Regions from separate parts of the Homo sapiens genome. Here all the other regions are linked to region 2. The links come from fine-mapping of genetic effects on gene expression. A gene starts in region 2. Each other region holds a variant in brackets. All regions are shown on one strand. Distances are from middle to middle.

Region 1 (8,183 bases), 43 kb after region 2:
CAGGATCACTCTGCTGTGTTGGAAGGAACTGAAGACTGGCAAGAGGGGAGCGGGTAGACTAGTTAGGAAGCCACTGCTACTACTAGTAGCAGGTAGACTAGTTAGGAAGCCACTAATAATAATCCAGGTAAGCAGCGGTGGTGGTTGCTGGGTCCAGAGGAGAGCAGTGGAGGTGGTGAAAAGTGGTTGGGTTAGATCTACGTAGAGAGAAGAGCAGAGAGCACTTGCAAATGCTGGGTATGAGAGAAAAAGATACGTAAGGATGACACTAGGTTTTGGGTCTGAACAGTGAGAAGAAGGGAGTTGCCCTTAACTGAGGTGTGTAAGTTATAGGAGGTACCAGTGTTGCATGTATTAAAAGTGAGATGTCACTTTGATACCTGTTGCAGTCAGAATTCCTTAATAAATGGCTGGCACACTCAATATAATTGAACACTTTGACAAAGGAATCATTTACAAAGGTATGTGTAGAGTCTAATGAAAGCACTGAGGTAGTGCTGTGTTGAGAGGGCAAGTAGCGGCAGAGATGTTACCACCCTAGTTACTGGAAATTTGAAGGGAGTCATAGAGAGTTGGCCTTGGGAGAATGAATCACCTTCGGTGAGGGGACTCAGCCAGTGAAGATGACCCCACTCTGAGAGAGTCAGAGGAATAAACATTCTCTTCCTCCCTCTGCCAAGGCTTCCATAAGTCTAACCTACTGGAAGCCAGAAGACAAGGGAAGTTGTAATCCATATTGGTCAACCTTCTAGGGTAGAACAGGTTGGAGAAGGGTGGAGGATAAATCTGCATTGGCACATGGAAGAGACCCAGCACAACATCTAATAGGCGACATGGAGCAGGCTGCTGGATAGAGGAATGTGGGGTTCAGGATCCAGGCCTGGGTTGGCAATAATACATTTGGGTGATGCCAGCCTATAGATGATATTTAAAGTCGTGAGAATGTATGAGATGACAGGGGGAGTTATTACCTAGAGAAGTACTGATTCCCAGGCACCACAGTGTCTAGAGTTTAGGGGAAAGAGAAGAGACCAGCAAAGGAGACTGAGCATGAGTGGTAGAAGAAAGAACCAGAGAGTGTAGTGTCTTTAAGTGTTTTGAAGCAGGAGGAGAGATCTGTATCAAATGCAGTTGATGACAATGAAGAATTGACTGTTAAATTTAACAGGAAGGTTATTGGTGATCTTCACAAGTGCAGTTTTGTTGGAGTGGTGGCATAAATTTTTTCTTGAATTTAAAAAGAATGTGGGAAGAGATGTTTGAGACAGCAGGTATAAATGACTTAATTTTAAGGAGTTTTGTTATAAAGGAAAGGAGAATAATGGGCTGGTGGGAGAAGTGAGTCAAGACTTTTTAATTTTTTCTTTTTTTGGCATTTCTTTTGTAGTGACAGGGTCTTCTTATGTTGCTTAGGCTGGTCTCGAATTCCTGGGCTCAAACAATCCTGCCTTGGCTTCCCAAAGTCCTGGGATTACTGATGTCAGCCACTATGCTTGGCCAGTTAAGACATTTTTTTAAAGGTGGGAGAAATAACTACATGTTTACTTGTTGATAGATCCAGAAAAGGGGACAAAAATCATAAGGGGAGGGGTGAGAATTCCTGGATCTGTGTTCTTTAGTAGATATGAGCTTGATAGGATCTATTGTGCAGGTGGAGGGATGGCCCATTGCTGGGGCTTGGGCAGTTTTCCAACTGTAATTGGAGGAAAGGCAGAATATATGGGCATAGATATGGGTAGATGGGTAGATGTCATGGAGGCTTGAGGAAGTGGTCTAAGAAAACCATGGATAAGTGTTGTGGAGGAGGTACTGGAAGTGGAAGGAGAGAGCAGAAGGTAAGAAATAGTTGTCAAGGAAGTGGGAAAGTATAGTTTCCTATTTTCCAAGTAGGAAAATGTGGTATAGATGTTGGGTGACAATAGGGGCCCACATGAAGTTGGTATTCATAAATTTAAGGTGAGAACAGGTATACTTTTCCCTGACTCATATTGTGCTGTATGGGTGCAGGCCCAGAAAGACCGGACGGAAGGGTAGGACTTAATCATGATTACAGTTTAGCAGAGCAAATGCAATGAAATGAGAGAGGGAAAAGGAGATGATTAGAATGATTGAAATGAATTTAAGTGGGATAAGGAAATAAGTGAAGATATGAGAGAAGATGAGGGGCAGTAAAAAGATATTGGGATCACAGGACTACAGATTTTTTCAGGGCAGAAGGATTATTGACCTTCTTGAGAAAGTGTGAGTTGGAGAGGTGGGAAGTGGTGGCTGTAGATTAGAATGTTTGACGTTGAGATTTGGTGGGGCAGGGGGTTGCGGATGACGGTAATGATATAGTCTTATATAAAAATACGGGTGTGCCTGGCTGTGAGTTGGTGTGGAGACCTCGTCTTTGGAGTTTTTAGTTTACATTTCCTTAGTTATTACTGAGGTTGAACATCTTTGTATTTGTGGTGCTTGCTTTCTTTGTGAACTGCTGCTCACATTCTTTGACCATTTGGCTATTTTGTTTCTTATTGATTTGTGGGTTAAAAAAAAAGTAGTCTTGATACTTATCTTTTGATATTTGTGTTTGCAGGTATCTCCTGATATGAGATTCACTTCTATAGTGTGTCTTTCAGTGCATTGTTTTAAATTTTAGTTGAATTTATCAATTTTCTATCCTACTGTTTATGCTGTTTTATGCCTTTAGAAATCCATCTTTCTCCCAAGGTTAAAGATGTTCTCCTATATTTTCTAGAAGTTCTAATTTTGCTTTTTTTCCTGAAGAATGTTACATTTTATTGTTTGCTACATTCTTGTGCCATGGTTTTCAGCCCCATCGGGTAATTTAAGGTCTTCTCTACGCTGTTTATTCTAGTTAGCCATTCATCTAATCTTTTTTCAAGCTTTTTAGCTTCCTTGCGATGGGTTCGAACAGCCTCCTTTAGCTGGGAGAAGTTTGTTATTACCAGCCTTCCGAAGCCTACTTCTGTCAGCTCATCAAAGTCATTCTCCATCCAGCTTTGTTCTCTTGCTAGCGAGGAGCTGCGTTCCTTTGGAGGACAAGAGGCGCTCTGGTTTTTAGAATTTTCAGCTTTTCTGCTCTGGTTTCTCCCCATCTTTGTGGTTTTATCTACCTTTGGTCTTTGATGCTGGTGACCTACAGATGGGGTTTTGGTGTGGATGTCCTTTTTGTTGATGTTGATGCTATTCCTTTCTGTTTGTTAGTTTTCCTTCTAACAGTCAGGTCCCTCAGCTGCAGGTCTGTTGGAGTTTGTGGGAGGTCCACTCCAGGCCCTGTTTGCCTGGGTATCACCAGCGGAGGCTGCAGAACAGCAAATATTGCAGGACAGCAAATGTTGCTGCCTGATCCTTCCTCTGGAAGCTTCGTCCCAGAGGGGCACCCGCCTGTATGAGGTGTCAGTCGGCCCCTACTGGGAGTTGTCTCCCAGTTAGGCTACATGGGGTTCAGGGACCCACTTGAGGAGGCAGTCTGTCGGTTCTCAGAACTCAAACACTGTGCTGGGAGAACCACACCTCTCTTCAGAGCTGTCAGACAGGGACGTTTAAGTCTGCAGAAGTTTCTGCTGC[C/T]GTTTGTCCAGCTATGCCCTGCCCCCAGGGGTGGGGTCTACAGAGGCAGCAGGCCTTGCTAAGCTGCAGTGGGCTCTGTCCACTTCAAGCTTCCCCAGCCACAATGTTTACCTACTCGAGTCTCAGCAATGGCAGACGCCCCTCCCCCTGCCAGGCTGCTGCCTCACAGGTCTATCTCAGACTGCTGCGCTAGCAGTGAGCAAGGCTGTGTGGGTGTGGGACCCACCTAGCCATGTGTGGGATATACTCCTGGTGTGCCATTTGCTAAGACTGTTGGAAAAGCGCAGTATTTGGGCGGAAGTGTCCAGATTTTCCAGGTACAGTCTGTCATGGCTTCCCTTGGCTAGGAAAGGGAAATCCCCTGACCCCTTGCGCTTCCAGGGTGAGGCAGCGCCCCGCCCCGCTTCAGCTCGCCCTCCGTGGCCTGCACCCACTGTCCAACCAGTCCGAATGAGATGAACCAGGTACCTCAGTTGGAAATGCAGAAATCACTGTCTTCTGCATTGATCACGCTGGGAGCTGCAGCAGCATTTTAAAAACCCAAATGATATAATGTCCCACTAATGGCTTATGACCTGCAGTTTGGTGTGGTCTGAAGCATCTGATTCATTTAGTCATTTCAGTAACTTCGAAAAATGTCTGAGCAGAAACTCTTTAGTTTAATTAGGTCCCACCTGTCAATTTTTGGTTTTGTTGCAATTGCTTTTGAGGACTTAAGGACTCAAAAGTTTTCCCTTGGTATCCAAGAGGGATGGTTTCAGGACGCCTGTGGATACCAAAATCTAGGAATGCTAAGTCTCTGATATAAAATGGCAAAATATTTGCATATAACCTATGCAAAAAGTATAGATACCTTCCTTTATATACTTTAAATCATCTTTAAATCACTTATAATATCTAATGCAATGTAAGTGCTATGTAAAGTTATACTGTATTATTTTTTATTTGTATTTTTATTGTTGTATTGTTATTTTAAAATAATTTTCTTTATTCATTTATTTTTAGAGAGACAGGGTTTTCCTCTGTCACCCAGGCTGGAGTGCAGTGGCATGATCATAGCTCACTGCAGCCTTGACCTCCTGGGCTCAAGCAATCCTCCTGCCCCAGCCTCCTGAGTAGGTGGGACTATAGAGGTGTGCCACCCACACCTGGCTGATTTCTTCATTTTTTTGTAGAGACAGGACCTTGCTGTGTTGCCCAGGCTGGTCTTGAATTCCTGGTCTCAAGTGATCCTCTCTCTTTGGCCTCCCAAAGTGCTGAGATTACAGGTGTGAGCCACTGTGCCTGGCCAGTATTATTATTTTTTATTTTTAAAAAATATTTTTGATCTATGGTTGGTTAAATCTACCAATGTGGATGGTTGCCTGTATGTTATTTTTTTCTTCCCAAATTAGCTGGACCTCTGGTCCAATTCTCAAATGTTATTTGGAAGATAGACCTTTATCTAAGAGTACACCTTTATCTAAGAGTAGAGAATATAGAACTTCAAGAGTAGAGAATATAGCTTAACATATATTCTCTAAGTAGATTTCCATTGTAACAGTGAATTTTTGAAGACTTGTAATTAAAAAGTGAATTTCTATTTCACACACACTGTATGTATATGTCGATGCTCACTTTGGAAGATAGTTTGCCATTTTCTGATAAAACTGAAGATCTAGCACTTTCACCCTTAAAGGATACTCTAGAGCAGAGGTCCCCAACCTTTTTGGCACCAGGGACCGGTTTTGTGGAAGACAATTTTTCCACAGACCAGGGTGAGGATGACGGTTTCAGGATGATTCAAGCGTGTTACATTTATTATGTGCTTTATTTCTATTATTATTACATTGTGATATGTAGTGAAATAATTATACAACTCACCATAATGTAGACTCAATGGGAGTCCTAAGCTTGTTTTCTTGCAACTGGATGGTCCCATCTGGGAATGATGGGAGACTGACAGATCATCAGGCCTTAGATTCTCATAAGGAGCGTGCAACCTGGATCCCTTGCATGTGCAGTTCACAATAGGGTTTGGCTCCTATGAGAATCGAATGCTGCTGCTGATCTGACAGGAGGTGGCGCTCAGGCACTAATGCAAGCAGTAGGGAGTGGCTGTAAATAGAGAAGAATCTGCTCACTTGCCCACCACTCACCTCCTGCTATGCAGCCCGGTTCCTAACAAGCCACAGACCGGTACTGATCCATGGTCTGGGGGTGGGGGACCCCCTGTTCTAGAGAAACTCCAGCACGTGTGTGCCCAAATGTTCACAGCTGTATGTTCAGAAGAGCCTCAGATGGAAGCAACGCAAATATTCATTAATAGTGGAATGAATACTTAAATAAGTGGATGAATCTTTTCAACATAGCATGAAGTAAAAGAAACATGCCCACAGAATTCGTTAGTATGATTCTATTATATAAAGTTCAAACACAGGAAAAAAAAACCCTATTTTTTAAGGATGTATATTTAAATACTAAAGTGACAATCAAGGAAATGATTATTCCAGATATCATGATTGCGGTCACCTCTAGTGGGGAGATGAGGTGTAATGATTGAGGAGGGCCCGGTAGCAGGTGTGGTGTTGGCAGTATTCTATTTCCTGGCCTGGATGATTGTTATTTATGTTGGTTTAATAATTATTCTATAAGCTCATATGTATTATCAATTTTTTATTTTACAGATCTCTTTATAAAAGGAATAAAACTCTTTAAAAGTGGATTTCTAATGGTAAAATTTCTGTTACCACCATAGAGGTGGGAACCATTTTTGGAGAGGCAGCCCTTTCCAGCCTGCCTCCTTCCACTTGTGCCACACGGGCATTGCCTGCTCTGTTTGTTTCTGACCACTGACAGTGACACTCTCATTTTTATTAGTGGTGGATATGGGAAAGGGGACGGTTGTTCAAAGTCATACTTTTTCTGGTAAGATTGTGAGTCTTTAGGTGTCTTTGTAGAACTCTTTCTGTTAGTCTCTGAAAGAGATAATCATGCCTTTGGCTTTTCTTTTTGAACAGTATTCTTGGCAGTTCTAAGTTACGTTTCAAGAGCTTTGAAAATGGCACCCCACTCTTACCTTCAAACGTAAAAAGTAAGATCTATGAGAAATTTCTTCTGCCCTTCATTTTTTTTCCCCAAAAGTCAAATCATTGAATTCATGCAATATGCATTGTCTGTTCCTTTCAAGATGTCACAGATAGCCAGAGTTAGAAAAATGTTTAACAGTGTGAGCAGAATGCACTGGATCAATATTGAAGAAAACGTGGGGAAAATATTATGTGCAAGTCTGTAAACACTATTTTTAGAGATACAAATAAAAACGAAATAACCAGACTGCAGTTTGGTCAGTATAGTTGTTGTCTGTGCATATTTTTGCTTAAAACTATTATATATTTTCTTCAATTTAATTTTATGAAAAGCTATTTTGGGTAGGAAATTTTAATTGTAATGACATTGGAATTTCTTCCCTCCTCTGTTCCTTGTGCCAACAATTAGACTGAAGGGAAAAGAAAGGATATTACTCTAGCAGCCTGTACTTTTAAATTAAACCTCGAACCTTTTCTTTCCATGAGGCAACAAGACAGTTTTATTTGTCCTCATTGATTCAGCTCATTTTTTTCCCTCTTCTTGTATGGTATATAGTTTGTGCCAATATAGTCTCATATTACAAAGGCAATATAGTAGAAGAAGATTCTTCCCTTTGATATTTAAAACATCTGAAATAACACAAACAGAACTATAAATTAAAAAATTTGTTCTGGCTGACAGGGCTAAAAAAATTTTCAATTGGATAACCAAAAAAATAAAAACAAGGAAAACTCCGATAACAAAAAAACTTTTCCTTGTAGCTGAATATTGAATATTGGGCCTAATTTGATTTTCTTTTTTCTTTTTTTTTGAGACGGAGTCCTGATCTGTCGCGCAGGCTGGAGTGCAGTGGCGCAATCTCGGCTCACTGCAAGCTCCGCCCCCCGGGCTGACGCCATTCTCCTCCCTCAGCCTCCCGAGTAGCTGGGACTACAGGTGCCCGCCACCACGCCCAGCTAACTGTTTTGTATTTTTTTAGTAGAGACGGGGTTTCACCTTGTTAGCCAGGATGGTCTCAAATCTTCTGACTTCGTGATCCCCCTGCCTTGGCCTCCCAGAGTGCTGGGATTACAGGCGTGAACCATCGCGCCCGGCCTGATTTTCTTTTTAAAAACCTTCAAAAGATAAGAGCAGAATTTGTGTGCTAAACTGCTAGTCTCCAGCGCCATTTTGTGTTTTCTGTTGTTTTGAAGCAATTCTTTGTTTTTGCTGGTCCAGCTGCATCATTTTCATCATCCTGAACTATCATTTTCCTGCCCTGAAGTTGTGCATTTCCTTTAGCAGATCCAGCCTAGGCAGCTTTATTTCCCTTTCTTTTTCCTTTAAATCTATGACCTTTTGATTCTCATTTGTTTAGAGATTCTTGGTGATTTTGCATGAGTTTTTTTCAGTGTTTCTTTTTCTACCTTTCTGTCTAGTAATTTCCACATCTCTTCCTTGTTTCTTAGTCATAGGTTACAATTGCTGGCTGCTTCTGCTTTATTTAGTGTTTCTTTAGCTTTTTTCTTACATAGAATTAATCTCTCTTTTGCTCTACTGAT
Region 2 (8,183 bases):
CTTAGACTAGGAATTACTGGGTTTCTTGTGATGTTTGAAGGCTCAGATGCTACCTTGACACAGTAGTTGAGGATGCATCAGAATCAACTGGCAGGTTTATTAAGACACAGATTACTGGGCCTCATCCCCAGAGTTTTAATTCTGAATTTGCATTTCTAACAAGTTCCCAGGTGATGCTATTTTTCTGGCCTACATTTTGAGAACAACTACCTTAAGGAATTGGCTACCATTTTATTTAAAAAATAACTTAGGTTGCCGGGCACGGTGGCTGTTGCCTGTAATCCCAGCACTTTGGGAGGCTGAGGCGGATGGATCACCTGAGGTCGGGAGTTTGAGACCAGCCTGACCAACATGGAGAAACCCCGTCTCTACTAAAAATACAAAAAAATTAGCCGGGCGTGGTGGTGCATGCCTGTAATCCTAGCTACTCAGGAAGCTGAGGCAGGAGAATCGCTTGAACCTGGGAGGCAGAGGTTGTGGTGAGCTGAGATTGCGCCATTGTACTCCAGCCTGGGCAACAAGTGCGAAACTCCGTCTCAAAAAAAAAAAAAAAAAAAAACTTAGGTCATGTATGTATTAAAAATATGCAAAAAGTACAGTTTCGTTTCTAAGGAGCTACCTATATAATTCAGCACTTTGGTTTTGATACTCATGAATTCTCATGAGTCCTACCTAAGGGAAAACTGAATTTTTTATTCATGCAATGGCATATGTTTAAAATCAGGACTATCAAGCAAAAGCAATACCAGAAAAGATTCCTTCCCTTTGTTATTTATGCAATCCAAAGGTCTCTGGTTGCTCAAAATGCAGGAGGTACTTGTGTGGTATTTTTAAACCTTAATAACACATTTTTGGACCAGAATCACACGAGGACAGCATATACCGTATCCTTGTTGAAAGAACTTTGGCTAGTTGTGTCCGCTAATTAGGAAGTGCTAGAAGGGGGACCTCAGAATTTTCCTATCCTAAACACTCTTGGTTGAATTGAGAAAAACAAGATACGCCTTGAATGAACAGATGGAGAGTAACATACCCCCGGACTTCTGAGGGCATCTGCAGAATAGACTTACAGGCATGGATTCTGGAATTAGACTGTACTGGTATAAATCCCAGTTCTGTTACTTACTAGCTTGAGCAAATTATTTAACTTTTTTGCAACTCAGTTTTCTTATCTGTAAAATAGGAATAATAATAGTGTTTATTTCATAGGGATATTTTGAAGATTTAATGAGTTAGTACGTGGAAAGTGCTTAGAATAGTATCAGGTGCAAAATAAGTGTTAAAAAAACTTGGCATCATCCACAAACCAATCTCTCTCTAAAATGGCATACCTTTCAAAAGTGTTACTGAGTCTTACACTGACTAGTTGAAAGTATCAAGCATAGTGAATGTGCCCTAATAACACTGGCTTAATCTGCAAGCCACTGATCTTTTCAACCTCATAATTTTGGAGGCTTCTCAAGGGATAGTTATATAGTTCCTTAAAGCCCTATTTCCCACTGGTCTCGTCTCTCACTACATTGGAGATGTACATATTAATCTCATACCAGACATTTGCCCAAATCAGGGTTTCTCAATGTTGGCAAATTTAAGGCTGGATAAATTTTTGGATAAATTACATCGGTAGCTCCTTAGATACTAAAACGTACCTTTTGCACCAATCTATCTGTGCTAGTGGTTCTCATCCAGGGTGATTGCCTCTCAGGGAACATTTGGCAATGTCTGGAGATGTTTTTGGTTGTCTTAATGAGGGGGAGAGGGGTTCATTCTGGCATCTAGTGGGTAGAGGCCAGGGATGCTATTAAATATTCTACAATGCACAGGATAAGCTACCGCCACAAAATGTTACCCAGCCCTAAATTTGCCAACATTGAGAAACTCCGATTTGTGCAAATGTCTAGTTTGAGATTAATGTGTGGATCTTCAACTTGGTGAGAGGCCAGACCAGTGATATGCTGGTAGATATTTAACCATATTCTTCCATGCCCCTTCCCCACTGCTATGGTCTAAATGTTCATCTCCCTCAAAATTCATGTTGAAATCTTTTTTTTTTTTTTAGACAGTCTCCTTCTGTTGCCCATGTACAATCACAGCTCACTACAGCCTCAACCTCCTGGGCTCAAATGATTCTCTATCTTAGCCTCCCAAGTAGTGGGACTATAGGCATATACCACCATGCCCAGCTAATTTTTGTAGAAATGGGGTTTCACCATGTTGCCCAGGCTGATCTTGAACTCATGTCTCAGGCAATCCACCCGCCACAGCCTCCCAAAATGCTGGGATTACAGGCACGAACCACACACCTGGCCTGTAACTGTGTAATCTTGGAAGTTACTTAACATCTGTTTTAGATTCCTGATCTGTAAAATGGAGACAACACTAGCTTACCTCGTAGGCCAGCTATTAGTCCCAAATGAAGTGATATGAGAAGTATGTAGAATAGTGTTTGGTGCATATAAGTGCTCTACAAGTGTTACTATTTTTAAGACTGTTTCTCTGGAGTTGACAATCCTTCAATAGTTCCCCCTGTCTGGAAGGCGCCCCTACTCCCATTTACCAACCAGGCAAACTCCTACTCAACCATTAGGCTTTAGCTCAGGGGTCTATTTCTCATGAAGCCTTGGGTAACCCGTTTAAATATAATTTAACTTTTCTTCTTTGGACCTTGATCTTGAATCTCTCACTGCACTCAGCAACACGGTACTGTAATCATCTATTCACACGACTAGATTATCTTCCTTGTGGGCAGTGAGCTACTTGAGGGCAGGGGCAAGGTTTTTTTTTTGTTTTTGTTTTTAATTTCAGGACATAGCACTGTGCCTGATGCAGAGTAGGCAATTAGAAGCAATGAAAAGTATTAACTATGTATGGATATAGGAAAGAACCAGAAAGTACTGAGGGGGAAGAAAACACTTATTCTGCTAGGCTGACATTTTAGCCCTTGCTTTCATTATTTTCAGGTGGTTTCAGTCCCAAGTTAAAAACTGCTTTCATGCATCTGTGTAACCAACTGTTCCCCTTCCTGTTTTCTCCTTGGTTGAAAGAAGGGACTGGAGTGAGACCGCCTTAGAATGCCAGTTCCACCACTACCTAGTTATTCACTTTAGTCAAGTTTTTTTTAACCTTTCCAAGGCTGTTACCTCACTGCAGAATAAGGATGACAGTCATCCCTACCTCATAGAGCTGTTATGAGAATGAAATACTCATGTGCTCAATAAATGTCAGCTGTAGTAGTCATTTCTACAGAAATTCTGCTGAGGACTTTGACGCCCTTTCTAGCCATCTCCCAGTTTCGCACTGTTCTCTCTCCCACGTGCTGCAGTCCACCTCTCACCAGACACAAACTCTTGTCTTTACATCCACACCTCCTGAACCCTGACTTCGGTATAGTTTTAAAATGATACACATTCGTTGCTGAAAATTAGATTAAACGGAGGAAAAAAAATTAACTCACTTCAAATCTCAGCAGTTAACCACTAACATTTTAGTATGTATTTGTTTAGACCTTTTCTTATGCAAATACATACGTTTAAACTTTTTTTTTCCGAGAGTTCACATCATACAAATTTTATTTTATGACTCGTCCTTGCACTTAGCACGGTCTCTCCCCCAACCTATCTCTGATGCCTTGAGAATCCCCCCGCCCCGCTGCAGACCCCCACCACTTCCAGCTCCCAGCGGTCCGGCCTTCCCGCGGTCCCGGTTCCGGCCCCACCTGCGGGACGCCGGCCGCCCCGCCCCGCCCCGCTCCGCTGCGGCCGGCCTCGATCCCTAGCCCCGCACCCCGCGCCTCGCTGCTACCGGGCGCCTTTCGCTCGCGGCTCCTCCGTGCGGCCCGCTTCCGGTGGGGCCAGGGCGTCTCCGCCGCAGCTCGGCTCCCGCGCGCTCAGCACCGCCAGCGGCGGCCAGATGCAGGCGGAGCGAGGAGCTCGGGGAGGCCGTGGGCGGCGGCCAGGCCGCGGCCGGCCTGGCGGAGATCGCCACAGCGAGCGGCCCGGAGCCGCAGCGGCGGTAGCCAGAGGCGGCGGCGGAGGCGGCGGCGGGGACGGAGGCGGACGCCGGGGCCGTGGCCGTGGCCGGGGCTTCCGCGGCGCTCGCGGAGGCCGAGGAGGAGGAGGCGCCCCGCGAGGCAGCCGCCGGGAGCCGGGAGGCTGGGGCGCAGGGGCCAGCGCGCCGGTAAGAGGCGACGGCTGGTGGGGCTGGGACCGCGTGTAACTGGGGCAAGTGGGGCCGAGGCCGCCAGTCAAGAGCCGCAAGAGAGCGTGCCAGGCGCGCGCCAGACGGGCGGCGGCGCCGGCGCCTGCGCGGGACGGGCGGATGGTGGCGCGGGGGCGCGCCTGGTGGCGGGGGCGCGCCTGGGTATGCGCTTGGCCCTCGTGGCCTCCTGGCCGGGCTGGCGCGAGACAGTGGGGGTAGGAGGGCTTCCCAGCCTGCCCCAGGGTCCGGGTTAGGAACCCAGAGGCCAAGGCCGTGTGTCAGGGCTGCAAGTCTCGGCGGCCCGTGGGCCGGCTGGGCTGTCTGTACGAGTACCACTATGGGACGGAGGCGCGGCCACGACGTGGTCCCTCGGCAGCCTTTACGGGCACGCTCCTGTTATTAGGAGGGAAAGGATTTTTTGGTCTGTTTTGTTAACTGTCTGTGCAATGCCTAGTACACAGTAGGCGCATAATAAAAAGTTTGTTGAGTGAAAGAATGACCCCTACGACTGGACTCTAGTATTTGGGGGCGGGACCAGATGCATAGTTCTTTGTAATAGCGTAGTTCTCTTTTATTATGCCTGTATGTGTAGAAATCAGCGAGCACTGGGCTTTGTCGTTTTGAATTTTCAATTTATAAATGAGCAGTCAAGTTCTGAGTTTTAATAGCAATATCATCAGTCTTATTGACACATTCATAGAAGGAAGTTTTTGGAGATTGGAGCAGGGGATGATATATATGGGGGCAAAGCTAACCATATCTCAGCTAAAGGAGTTAGAGGACTGTCTTTTTATGAGTTGTTCTGTTACCTTAACATCTGTAGGACAAGACCATCTTTATATTCTGCATTCTTATGCACACTGATTTAAAAAATTCTTTTTTGCATGAGGCAAAATTTGCTCTTACTGAAGTATTTACAATATCTTGAGGGCATAGCAGATAAGATATCCCTAAAGAGAGTAGTTGTATACAGCAATACAGAGCTGGAAAAAAAAGTATAAAACTTAAATTTAAATGTAACAAACTTAAATCTTGTTAGGATTAAGATAGGTAATAGGCAAAACTTGAATGAGATATAAAAACATTTTTAGGGTCAGTTTACCTCGTGTAAACTGACAGAAACTAAGGTAAATGACAGAAACTAAGACCAACCTAGTGCCCACTATATATCACATTTTGTTCTTATAACTCTATTATATATATATAATATATATGTAATGTAGAATTATGTAATATAATAGTATGTAATTATATATTAACTACAATGTTATATATTATTTATATATCCATATATAGAGAGTAATCTTTATTTTTACAGGTTAACTGACTTGCCTAAGCTTTCACAGCTAGTGGCAGAGCTGGGATTTATATCAAGCTGCCCTTGAGTCAACAGTATTTTATCTCTTACTTTTTCGTGAACCAGTTACCACTTTATTGAGAACAAAGTAGATATTCCTTAGCTGCAGGGATCGTGCTTTAAGAGTAATTGTAGTAATGGTACATTTGGTGTTAACTATGGTGTCTGGCGCACAGGACTTTACTAATAAGTGTCTTTAAGTTGAATTGAGTGAGTGAAGGTGCTTCTGTTTTGTTAATCTCTGTTGAATTAAATTGGGTGAAATGATGGTATATATTTTTTTTTTTTTTTTGAGACGGAGTTTTACTCTTGTTGCCCAGGCTGGAGTGCAATGGCATGATCTTGGCTTGCTGCAACCTCCGCCTCCCGGGTTCAAGTGATTCTCCTGCCTCAGCCTCCCAAGTAGCTGGGATTACAGGCATGAGCCACCTTGCCCGGCTAATTTTGTATTTTTAATAGAGATGGGGTTTCACCATGTTGGTCAGGCTGGTCTCGAACTCCTGACCTCAGGTGATCCACCCGCCTCGGCCTCCCAAGGTGCTGGGATATGGATTACAGGTGTGACCCACTGCGCCTGGTCATGATGGTATATCATTAAAAGAAAGAATAATACAAGACTTTAAAAAATTTAAGATAGTATTGTAACACATTCTGTTAAAATTTTAGGCTTTTTCTTTTGTCGAGTTGGTCTTATCCCTTCATCATCATGTTTTCAGCCAAAGCTGGAGGGAGGGATGTTGGGCAGATTGTTCCTTAATTTTGGTTTGGATTGGTCATCTCTAAGTTCCTTCCATTTCTCAGATTCTGAAGTACTGTTTGTATTTAGTCTTGCTAGGACACCATTTTTGGTGCTTAACCATTACATGAGACAAGATTGATTGACTTTCCTGAAGCCTTCTTGTTCTCATATCCCATGGTGCATTTGTGCCCCAAGGAGAGAGTAACCGAAATGATCAAAGGAAAAAAAAATCATAATAGACTCCTAGCCATGTAAAGACCAGTTGTCCACCTTCAGAAACCAATTTTGTGTACACCTTTGCTTTCTATTTTGGACCACTGCATACAAATGGAAAACAAAATCAATCTAACCAACTTCTACATAGCTATGTAATACTCCAGGGTAACTTAGTTGAGTACTAAGTTGAGTACATCTCTTAGTCTCTTGCTCTTAAATCATTCCTTCTGTAAATGGTCTGAGCTCTAAGCTTACTGATTATGGGTGAGCATAATTATCTTCACGGAATACTCACTAGAAGCATTATTGTACTAGATACAATCATTAACTTTAAAAAAAAAACACAAAACTGGCTGGGTGTGGTGGCTCGCGCTTGTAATCCCAGCACTTTGGGAGGCTGAGGTGGGTGGGTCACTTGAGTCTGGGAGTTCGAGACCAGACTGGGCAACATAACGAGACCCCCTCTCTATAAAAAAAATACAAAACTGCCGAGCATGGCGGGGTGCATCTGTAGTCCCTGCTACAAGGGAGGCTGAAGCAGCCGGATTGTTTTGAGCCCCGGAGGTGGAGGCTGCAGTGAGCTGTGATCCTGCCACTGCACTCCAGCCTGGGCAATAGAGTGAGACTCTGTCTCAAATAACTAACTTACTAACTAAATGAATAAATAATCCCCCTATCACTGCCCCCAATACTAGGATTGTTTAGTATTTATCTTTGTGATGGGCTGTTAGCAGAGAGGAAGACAAGGCCAGCTGGTAGTCTTTGGAATTTTTTTTCTTTTTTCCTTCCTCTAGTAATAACAGTAATTCACATTTGTCGAGTACTTAATATAAGATGAGACAGCTGAGGCACCGTTAAATAACTCACAGTTAGGAGAGGTGAAATAACTTTTTAATATCACTCAACCAGAAAATTGCTGAGCCTGGATTCCACCCCAGCATTTTCACTCCAGAGCCTGTTCTTTCGACTGCTGCTCTAAACTGCTCCTGGAATGACTTTGAGATTTGAAAAAGGGGTGTGTGGAGGACTGTTGAGTGATTCTTTCACATGCCTGATTATTTTTTTAACTGATATGTTAGTATGGTTATAAGGTTTTAAGGTAACATTGGTACCATCTTCAGTTATTGTGGGTGTTACCAGACCTTTGCTTTCTTGCTCCATGTTTATATTGCAGCTTTTCATATTCCTTTTAAAATGATTTATATTCAATAAAAGATGAGACAGCTGTTTATAGTTGTACTAAAAAGTAGAATCTGGAGGCATTTAATTCTGATCAAACTTTTGCTTTGTAAACAAAGCCTGAGTAGTAATTAATACCCGATGGCGTTGACATTTTCATTTCACTGGGTAAAAAGGAAATCTCTAATTTTCTATTCAAGTTTAGTGTGAACCTGGAGGGAAGAAATGGTGTCAGATCAGTTACAGGCAGGTGTCTAAGGACTTGCTCCTTCATTGTTGCTCAGAGTAGCCACCAGCCGCTTGTCAGCCAGCTAGAGACTGAGAGCCTGTTAAAAGCTCAAACTGAAATGACAGCCTCTAGACTTTATTTTCCTTTTTTTCCAGAAAGCCTGAAGCAAATTTGGTTAGAAACTGAATGTGCTTAAGTGTCCCAACAGAAGATTGCTTTAAGATTAGTTCTTGGTAATCCATGAAATTGACCTCTCCTCCTGCTGC
Region 3 (8,183 bases), 83 kb after region 2:
TTTTCACCCTTAGGCAAGTCATCCGACACGAATCCAGTAGTTATACACTACTGCACAGATGTTGGAGTTCAGTGGCATCTTCTGCTTAGTGATGTTTTTGATTTTTGGTTAAATCTCACCATGACATGCCTTTCATTTTTTTGCATATGTGTCTCTTTGTGTATTTGATATATATCCTTTCTGCTGTAATAGGATTCATTCTGTTGTCACATTCCATGTTGTAGAAATTGGTTTATATGTCTTTCTGATCTCCACTAAACGTTTCTCCAGGGTAGACACCATGCTTTACTCCTTATAATGTCTCCAGCATTTGCTGAGAAGGACCAGCTCTGCCTCCTCTTCTTCCTCGTTCTCATTCCAGTTCACCTGGTGTCTGACCTTTCTTGTTGCTTATTCTTAGTGCTTGAACCTAATGACCTGTCTTTAGAGGGGTTGGGGAGTGGGCACTGGTGTGGAGAGAGGAGGGGGCCTCCCTCTGCCCCTAGGTAGAGTCTGGGGGTTCAAGAGTGTGGTGCTCGGAGGGCTATGGCTATGACTGAAGTGTAGGGAGTAGTGAGAGAGGTTAAAGAGGCATTAAGGGGCCTGAAGGTAGACTTGGATTGGACTTCCTGCTGAGGAATCTGAACTTTGTTTAGTAGACAAGAGGGACCTATTGAAAGGTCATAAGCAGGGAAGTGATATGAAGAGATTACCTAAAACTGCTGCACATTCAGGTCCTTGAAGACTGAAATTCGTATTTAAAAAAGTATGGCATAAACAGGTAATTATTCTATCTAGTAGGAAAATGTAAGGTCAGAGAGGAGAGTAATTAATTCTGCCTTGGGTTTGATGACAGGAAGCTTTCACAAATGAGGTGATGTTTCAACTGGATACTAAAGGGTAGCTAGGATTGCACCATGCAGGGAAGTTGGGAAGATGGAATTTTAGACGTGAGAAGCAGCTTGAGTGAAGAATCAGAGGCAAGCATATGCTTGGCATATTGGGAAAATCTTGACCCTGCTGATGTTGATGTGGTGCCAGGTCTGAGGAGACCAATGGCTTGAGAGGAGACTGGATAGGATGGGCTGAAAGCAGGTCACCAAAGGTTTTTGGTGCCCCACTATGGAGTGAAGATTTTATGCTCTAGATAGAGGGGAGCTGTGAGCTTTAAAAAAGCAGCTAAAAGACACGAGCACACCTATGGCATAGAGAAATAGCTCTAGCAGTTTAGAGGATGAATTGGAAAATGAGAGCTGGATGCTATTCTACCAGACCAGGTAAAATAAACAAAGGTGCCTGTTGAACTAGGATGGTGGGATTAGAAAGAGTATAAATAGAGGATTAGGAATGAAGAAGAGGCATGTTTCAAAGGTTAATTTAGCAGATGTGATTGGCTGTATGGGGAAAAGTGTATAAAGAAGTTTTCTTTCTTTTCTTTTCCTTTTTTTTTTTTTCTTGAGATAGGGTCTTGCTGTCTTGCCCAGGCTGGAGTGCAGTGGCATGATCTGGGCTCACTGTAACCTCTGCCTCCTGAGTTCAAGTGATTCTCCTCCCTCAGCCACCTGAGTAGCTGGGATTACAGATGTGTGCTACCATGCCTGGCTGATTTTTTTGTTGTTGTTGTATTTTTAGTAGAGATGGGGTTTCGCCATGTTGGCCAGGCCAGTCTTGAACTCCTGGCCTTAAGCGATCCACCCACCTCTGCCTCCCAAAGGGCTGGGACTGCAGGCGTGAGCCACAGTGCATGGCGAGAAGAAGTTTTCTTATTATTCAAGCGTCTAGGTGAATTATTTTGCAATTTATCAAGGTAAGGAAAACAGGAGGAGAAGACAGATTTGGTTAAAGATAATATTTTGAAAAGTTCATCCACATTTTAAAATTTGGGGTATAATTTACATATAAAATGCTCAAATCTTAACAGTTTGATAAGCTTTGACAATTTATGTACACCTGTGTAACCACTTCTACAAACAAGTTATAGAATAGTGGTTCTTAATATTTAGTGTGCATTAGAAACACCTGGATGGCTTGACGGACCGTAAGTTGCTACTCCCACTCAGAGTTTCAGATTTAGTAGATCTGGGGTGAGGACTGAGAATTCAACTTTCTAACAATTCCCAAGTGCCACTGGGTTCAGGGACCACACTTTGGAAACTGCTGATATAAAATACCACTGTCACTCCAGAAAGGCCCTCTTCACCCTTTTTGCCTCTCTCCCCAGGCAATCACAGTTCTGATTTCTAGCACTGTGATTAGTTTGCCTATTCCTGGACTGCACAAATGGAATTATTCAGTATTCGCTTATGTCTGGCTTTTTTTTTTTTCATACAATATAATGATTTTGAGATTCCCCTATGTTGTTGCATGGGGTTTATTCCTTTTTACCCGCTGACTAGCATTCCATCATGTGACTAGATCACAATTTGTTTATCATTTCTCCTGTTGACAGACATTTGATTTAGTTTCAATTTTGGGATATTATAAATAAAACTTCCGTGAATATTAATATACAAGTCTTTTTGTGGTTATATGTTTTCATTTCTCTTGGGTAAATACGTAGGAGTAGGATTGTTGGGTCCTAGGGTAAATTTATGCTTAATTTTATAAGAAACTGCCAAAATAGTTTTCCATAGTGGTTGTAATGTAGTCAAATTGTGATTAAATTTTTATTGACTCTAGTGAAGATCCTAGACATTGACTAGACTGAAGGACTTTTTGTCAAAGAAGAAAGGTCTCTAATGGACAAGGAAGCTTGGCAGTGTTACCCTTTGGGATATACGTGTGGCTAAATAACAGTGACCGTGGAACTCTTCCAAATCCTAAGAGAATTGAAATCTATGTTTAGATTTAAAAAATGTAGTTCATTATTCATTCAAAGAACAGTTAATAAGCACTTACCATATATTAGCCATAGAAGGGCACGTGGCTCCCAGTACTGTTCCTGAGGAGCTCACAGGTAAAACAAATTATTAAACTTTAAGAAGGTGCAAGGCAGTGCCTTAAATCTAAACTATCTTACTCCTAGTTTATCTGAATGTTATTTTTCCAGAAATTCTAAATATCAGACAATGAGGACATAAACCAAAAAACCCAAAAAAAACTCCCGAACATTTCACATCACTGGGGAAAAAGATGGATTTGTCAGGAAAATGGTGTTGGTCCAAGTGGAGTTCACCATCTGGGAAAAAAATTGGTATTCAAACCTCGTATCAGGATGATGTCAACATGTGCCAAAGAGTTTAATGCAAAACAAAAACTTAATGTAATAAAAATATTAGAACAAATTATAGACATACTCTTTTCTAATGTCAGAATAGGGAAGGTGTTTTAAAATATTGGACAAAATCCAGAAATACAAGGCTGTTAAATCTGATTATCTAAAAGTGACGAATTTCTGCATGGCAAAACCCACCATAACCAAGGCCAAAAGATAAATGATTATGTGTGTGTGGGCAGGGGAGATAGGATGGTGACTCATTACAGAGAACTAGTTTCCAATATATATGATGTGTTTTAACAACCCTATTAAAACTGGGCAAAGGCTATGAGCAGACTGTTCACAGAAAATGAAATGCAAATGGCTCTTAAACATGTGAAAAGATGCTCAATGCACTCATAGGAGAGATGCAAATTAATTACACTGAAATACATATTTTCAGTTATCAGATTGACAGATCAGAAAGTTTGATTAGACTTTGCACTGGCAAGAGTGAGGATGCGCAGTGTTGGAGAAGAAGGGCATTTCAAGTTGAGGGGAATTGGAGGAGCGGGGAGATGGAAATGGGAAAGGTAGGGCCAGCACATTAGAGCAGGACAGGTGAGCTAATGTAGGGGCAGGCGTGTTGACTTTAGCAAGGAGCGACAGCTGGCGCTCTAGTGTCATGGGAGAAGCAGGGAAACTAGATAGCTACACGCAATAACTACAAATGCTGGTCACCGCGGAGGCAGACGGCCCTACAGATAACAGCCC[G/A]AGGGAGTCACTTACCCCAAAAGGTCACATTATTCCCAGCATTTTCCATTTAAGGAAGCATTAAAATAGAATTTTTAATGGAATGAAAATTTAACACTCTTAACAAATTATAGTTTAAAGATATATTCTTCAGTTGTCTTAAATTTAATTTTTGGAGAATATATATGAAGATGCTGAATACATGAAACACATCTCTACTGGTTTAGCTGCTTATTGCTGTTTGTAGCTTTTCTTATGGTGAATTACGTTACATCACTGAATGCTTAGGACAAAAATGTGCAGTCATGCTTGTGTCTCCCTTTGGTTGCAAAGGTAGCATAAGTAACTGATTCGGAGAGAGATTAACTATTAGTGTTTAATTTTGGAAAAGCAAGTAATGCATGTAATTTAACAGAATGGTGCTTTTCTTTTTAATTCCCATCCCCCCGACATTTCTTATCTTCCTATGACTTCTGCCTCATCACTCATTTTATTTTCAGAATTCTAAAATTCATAATACTCTTTAAAATGAAACTATCATTTTTCCTGACTAGCTTAGTATTGGAGGTAAATAGATAACTGCTTGAGATACCTTTTGGTCTAGGACGTTATAATTCTGTGTGGTACATTATAGTTTTAAGCGTTGTACGTTGTGGATTATGCCTGCAGATTTATACATATTAGGGGCAAATAGAGCACCAAATATTTAATGATATTCTTGTTTGCTTACATTCCTAAAGAAGAATGTAATTACATGTTCAAACCAACAAGTTAACTTGATTTACATTTTCCTTCTCACTCACAATTTGGTTGCTATCTAGATTTTTTTTTAAAATTCAACCCTATGCCCAAATATATTTCAATAGTTCCTTGAGTCACTAAGACAAAAGATTAAGGGAAAAAAGTACACCTAATAGAATACTTTGAATATTGACCAGCAAAGATTGTATAGTATTTTCTGACACTTAAGGTTATAGATTACATTTTAAAAAAATTAAAACAAAAAAGACAATACTGTGGTGTCAGATAGATAGTATTCTTTATGGTATCTGAAAAGCAAGCTTATTTTATATTGAATTCTTGTACAGATGGGCATTATCCAAAATGTCCTGTACTCACTCCAGTGCAAAGCTGTAGAAAGATAGCCATTTGGTACCTTCCAGTGGCCCTTTCAAGGACTTTTCTGGGTAGAAAATCTAATGATTGAGAAAATGTTGATATTGATAACTCAGATATTATTTATCTTAGTTAAGAAGAGTTGAGTTTGTGGGACTAGATGCAGATTGAAAAGTCTTTATTATACTTTAAGTTCTAGGGTACATGTGCACAACGTACAGATTTGTTACATATGTATACATGTGCCATGTTGGTGTGCTGCACCCATTAACTCGTCGTTTACATTAGGTATATCTCCTAATGCTATTCCCTCCCCCCTCCCCCCACCCCATGACAGGCCCTGGGGTGTGATGTTCCCCACCCTGTGTCCAAGTGTTCTCATTGTTCAATTCCCTCCTATGAGTGAGAACATATGGTGTTTGGTTTTCTGTCCTTGTGATAGTTTGCTCAGAATGATGGTTTCCAGCTTCATCCATGTCCCTGCAAAGGACATGAACTCATCCTTTTTTCTGGCTGCATAGTATTCCATGATGTATATGTGCCACATTTTCTTCATCCAGTCTATCATTGATGGACATTTGGGTTGGTTCCAAGTCTTTGCTATTGTGAATAGTGCCACAATAAACATACGTGTGCATGTGTCTTTATAGTAGCATGATTTATAATCCTTTGGGTATATACCCAGTAATGGGATCGCTGGGTCAAATGGTATTTCTAGTTCTAGATCCTTGAGGAATAGCCACACTGTCTTCCGCAATGGTTGAACTTGTTTACACTCCTGCCAACAGTGTAAAAGCGTTCCTATTTTTCCACATCCTCTCCAGCATCTGTTGTTTCCTGACTTTTTAATGATCGCCATTCTAACTGGCGTGAGATGGTATCTCATTGTGGTTTTGATTTGCATTTCTCTGATGACCAGTGATGATGAGCATTTTTTCATGTGTCTGTTGGCTGCATAAATGTCTTCTTTTGAGAAGTGTCTGTTCATATCCTTTGCCCACTTTTTGATGGGGTTGTTTGATTTTTTCTTGAAAATTTAAGTTCTCGAAAGTTTAAGTTCTTTGTAGATTCTGGATATTAGCCCTTTGCCAGATGGGTAAATTGCAAAAATTTTCTTCCATTGTATAGGTTGCCTGTTCACTCTGATGGTAGTTTCTTTTGCTGTGCAGAAGCCGTTTAGTTTAATTAGATCCCATTTGTCTGTTTTGGCTTTTGTTGCCATTGCTATTGGTGTTTTAGTCATGAAGTCCTTGCCTATGCTTATGTCCTGAATGGTAATGCCTAGGTTTTCTTTTAGGGTTTTTATGGTTTTAGGTCTAACATTTAAGTCTTTAATCCATCTTGAAATAATTTTTGTATAAAGTATAAGGAAGGGATCCAGTTTCAGCTTTCTACATATGGCTAGCCAGTTTTACCAGCACCATTTATTACATAGGGAATCCTTTCCCCATTGCTTGTTTTTGTCAGGTTTGTCAAAGATCAGATGGTTGTGGATGTGTGGTGTTATTTCTGAGGCCTCTGTTCTGTTCCATTGGTCTATATCTCTGTTTTGGTACCAGTACCATGCTGTTTTGGTTACTGTAGCCTTGTAGTATAGTTTGAAGTCAGGTAGCGTGATGCCTCCAGCTTTGTTCTTTTTGCATAGAATTGTCTTGGCAATGTGGGCTCTTTTTTGGTTCCATATGAACTTTAAAGTAGTTTTTTTTTTAATTCTGTGAAGAAAGTCATTGGTAGCTTGATGGGGATGGCATTGAATCTATAGATTACCTTGGGCAGTATGGTCATTTTCATGATATTGATTCTTCCTATCCATGAGCATGGAATGTTCTTCCACTTGTTTGTGTCCTCTTTATTTCGTAGAGCAGTGGTTTGTAGTTCTCCTTGAAGAGGTCCTTCACATCCCTTGTAAGTTGTATTCCTAGGTATTTTATTCTCTTTGTAGCATTTGTGAATGGGAGTTCACTCATGATTTGGCTCTCTTGTCTGTTATTGGTGTATAAGAATGCTTGTGATTTTTGCACACTGATTTTGTATCCTGAGACGAAAAGTCTTATTTTCTAATATAAATGTTGGGATGCTTAGGGATCTATGTGTTGTTGAAATGAAGTGTTTTTTTTTTTTTTTCTCTTTAGCCTCTTATGGACAAGGGTGTATGGCCTGTCCAACTTGGTGTTTTGGGCATATGTAGATGTCTTCGTATAGTGCCCTATTAGGCATTCAGACATACTTATTGGTTGATTGGTAAATTCTTGTCCATGCTGTTTTCCTCAGTTGGATAGTTTCAGTTCCACATCTAGTTCAACAATCTCAGAAGATTAGGTAAAGTTGTGTAGTTATTACAAAAAATGCATATTTAATATCTATTTTTTCATTTATGCTGTTTTGGGAGCCAGTTTTTAAAAAAGACGTAATACTCTTTCATTATTTATGCGGTTTCCTATCTTTTTGGAGAATCATTGTAATTTTATTGCCATTGAGTATGTTGGTATCTGACTCAGAAAGGGAAGAAATACTGAAATTACAGTGGATGAGACTTAATTTCTCATTTCCTGCAACCAAGTTACTACAGGTGTCCCAATTATGGATAAGCATCTATCTAGACAGATAAAGTAGGATAGATTTAGGAGTCATCTTCTAATAGTTTGGGGAATAGGTTGCAAGGTATATTGCTCTCTTTGCTAATGCTTTGCCTCCTCCAACTCCCTCTATCTATACCTTTGAACCTGGAGTGATTTTTTTTCCCCTTTTTGATGTGGAAGACAGGCTGACTTATCTTGCTATTGAAGATAATATCATTTCCACCTGTTTGTGAGCTGCTGTTATCTATATATCCACCTTGGCGCAGATTTATTTCTAAAGCTAGACCAGACAGAATTTTGTTCTAAAATATATCTTTTGTTACTGCAGCCACATAAACCCTGAATAATCTATACATCTTGCTATTGAAATCAAATGGATTTTTGAGCTCTAGAGCTCTGCTTACTTGGGTGGGGATGGTACATTGTGTATAGTAAGTATTTAGGAAATTAATGTTTGGCCTTGGTCTTATCCAGCTTTCCAGATGGAGTTGAGAGTGATTTCTCTGAGAAATAGAAGCATCTTCTCAGTAAAGATACATTTTTACTTTGAGTCTATTTAT

The links. PIP is the estimated chance that this variant, and not a neighbour inherited with it, causes the effect. A credible set is the group of variants that fine-mapping cannot tell apart.
Region 1: its variant is the best candidate, but not a certain one, in a credible set for the expression of AVEN in tibial nerve (GTEx, PIP 0.72).
Region 3: its variant is the best candidate, but not a certain one, in a credible set for the expression of AVEN in whole blood (TOPMed, PIP 0.80).

Annotation. Positions count from the first base shown.
Region 1 is chr15:33,991,660-33,999,842 of GRCh38, reverse strand. The region is part of intron 2 of AVEN (apoptosis and caspase activation inhibitor); the gene reads left to right. The region is part of intron 1 of CHRM5 (cholinergic receptor muscarinic 5); the gene reads right to left. Among named protein-coding and RNA genes, the nearest start is that of CHRM5, 27 kb to the right of the region's middle. The variant C/T (reference allele first, on the strand shown) is at 3,574.
Region 2 is chr15:34,034,773-34,042,955 of GRCh38, reverse strand. It overlaps AVEN (apoptosis and caspase activation inhibitor), which reads left to right and starts at 3,752. Exons shown (of 6, transcript NM_020371.3): 1 at 3,752-4,176. The coding sequence starts at 3,910. All of the region lies in intron 1 of CHRM5 (cholinergic receptor muscarinic 5), which reads right to left. RefSeq lists silencers at 3,660-3,829, 4,010-4,219, 4,310-4,369, 4,720-4,779.
Region 3 is chr15:33,951,844-33,960,026 of GRCh38, reverse strand. The region is part of intron 2 of AVEN (apoptosis and caspase activation inhibitor); the gene reads left to right. Among named protein-coding and RNA genes, the nearest start is that of CHRM5, 13 kb to the left of the region's middle. The variant G/A (reference allele first, on the strand shown) is at 3,950.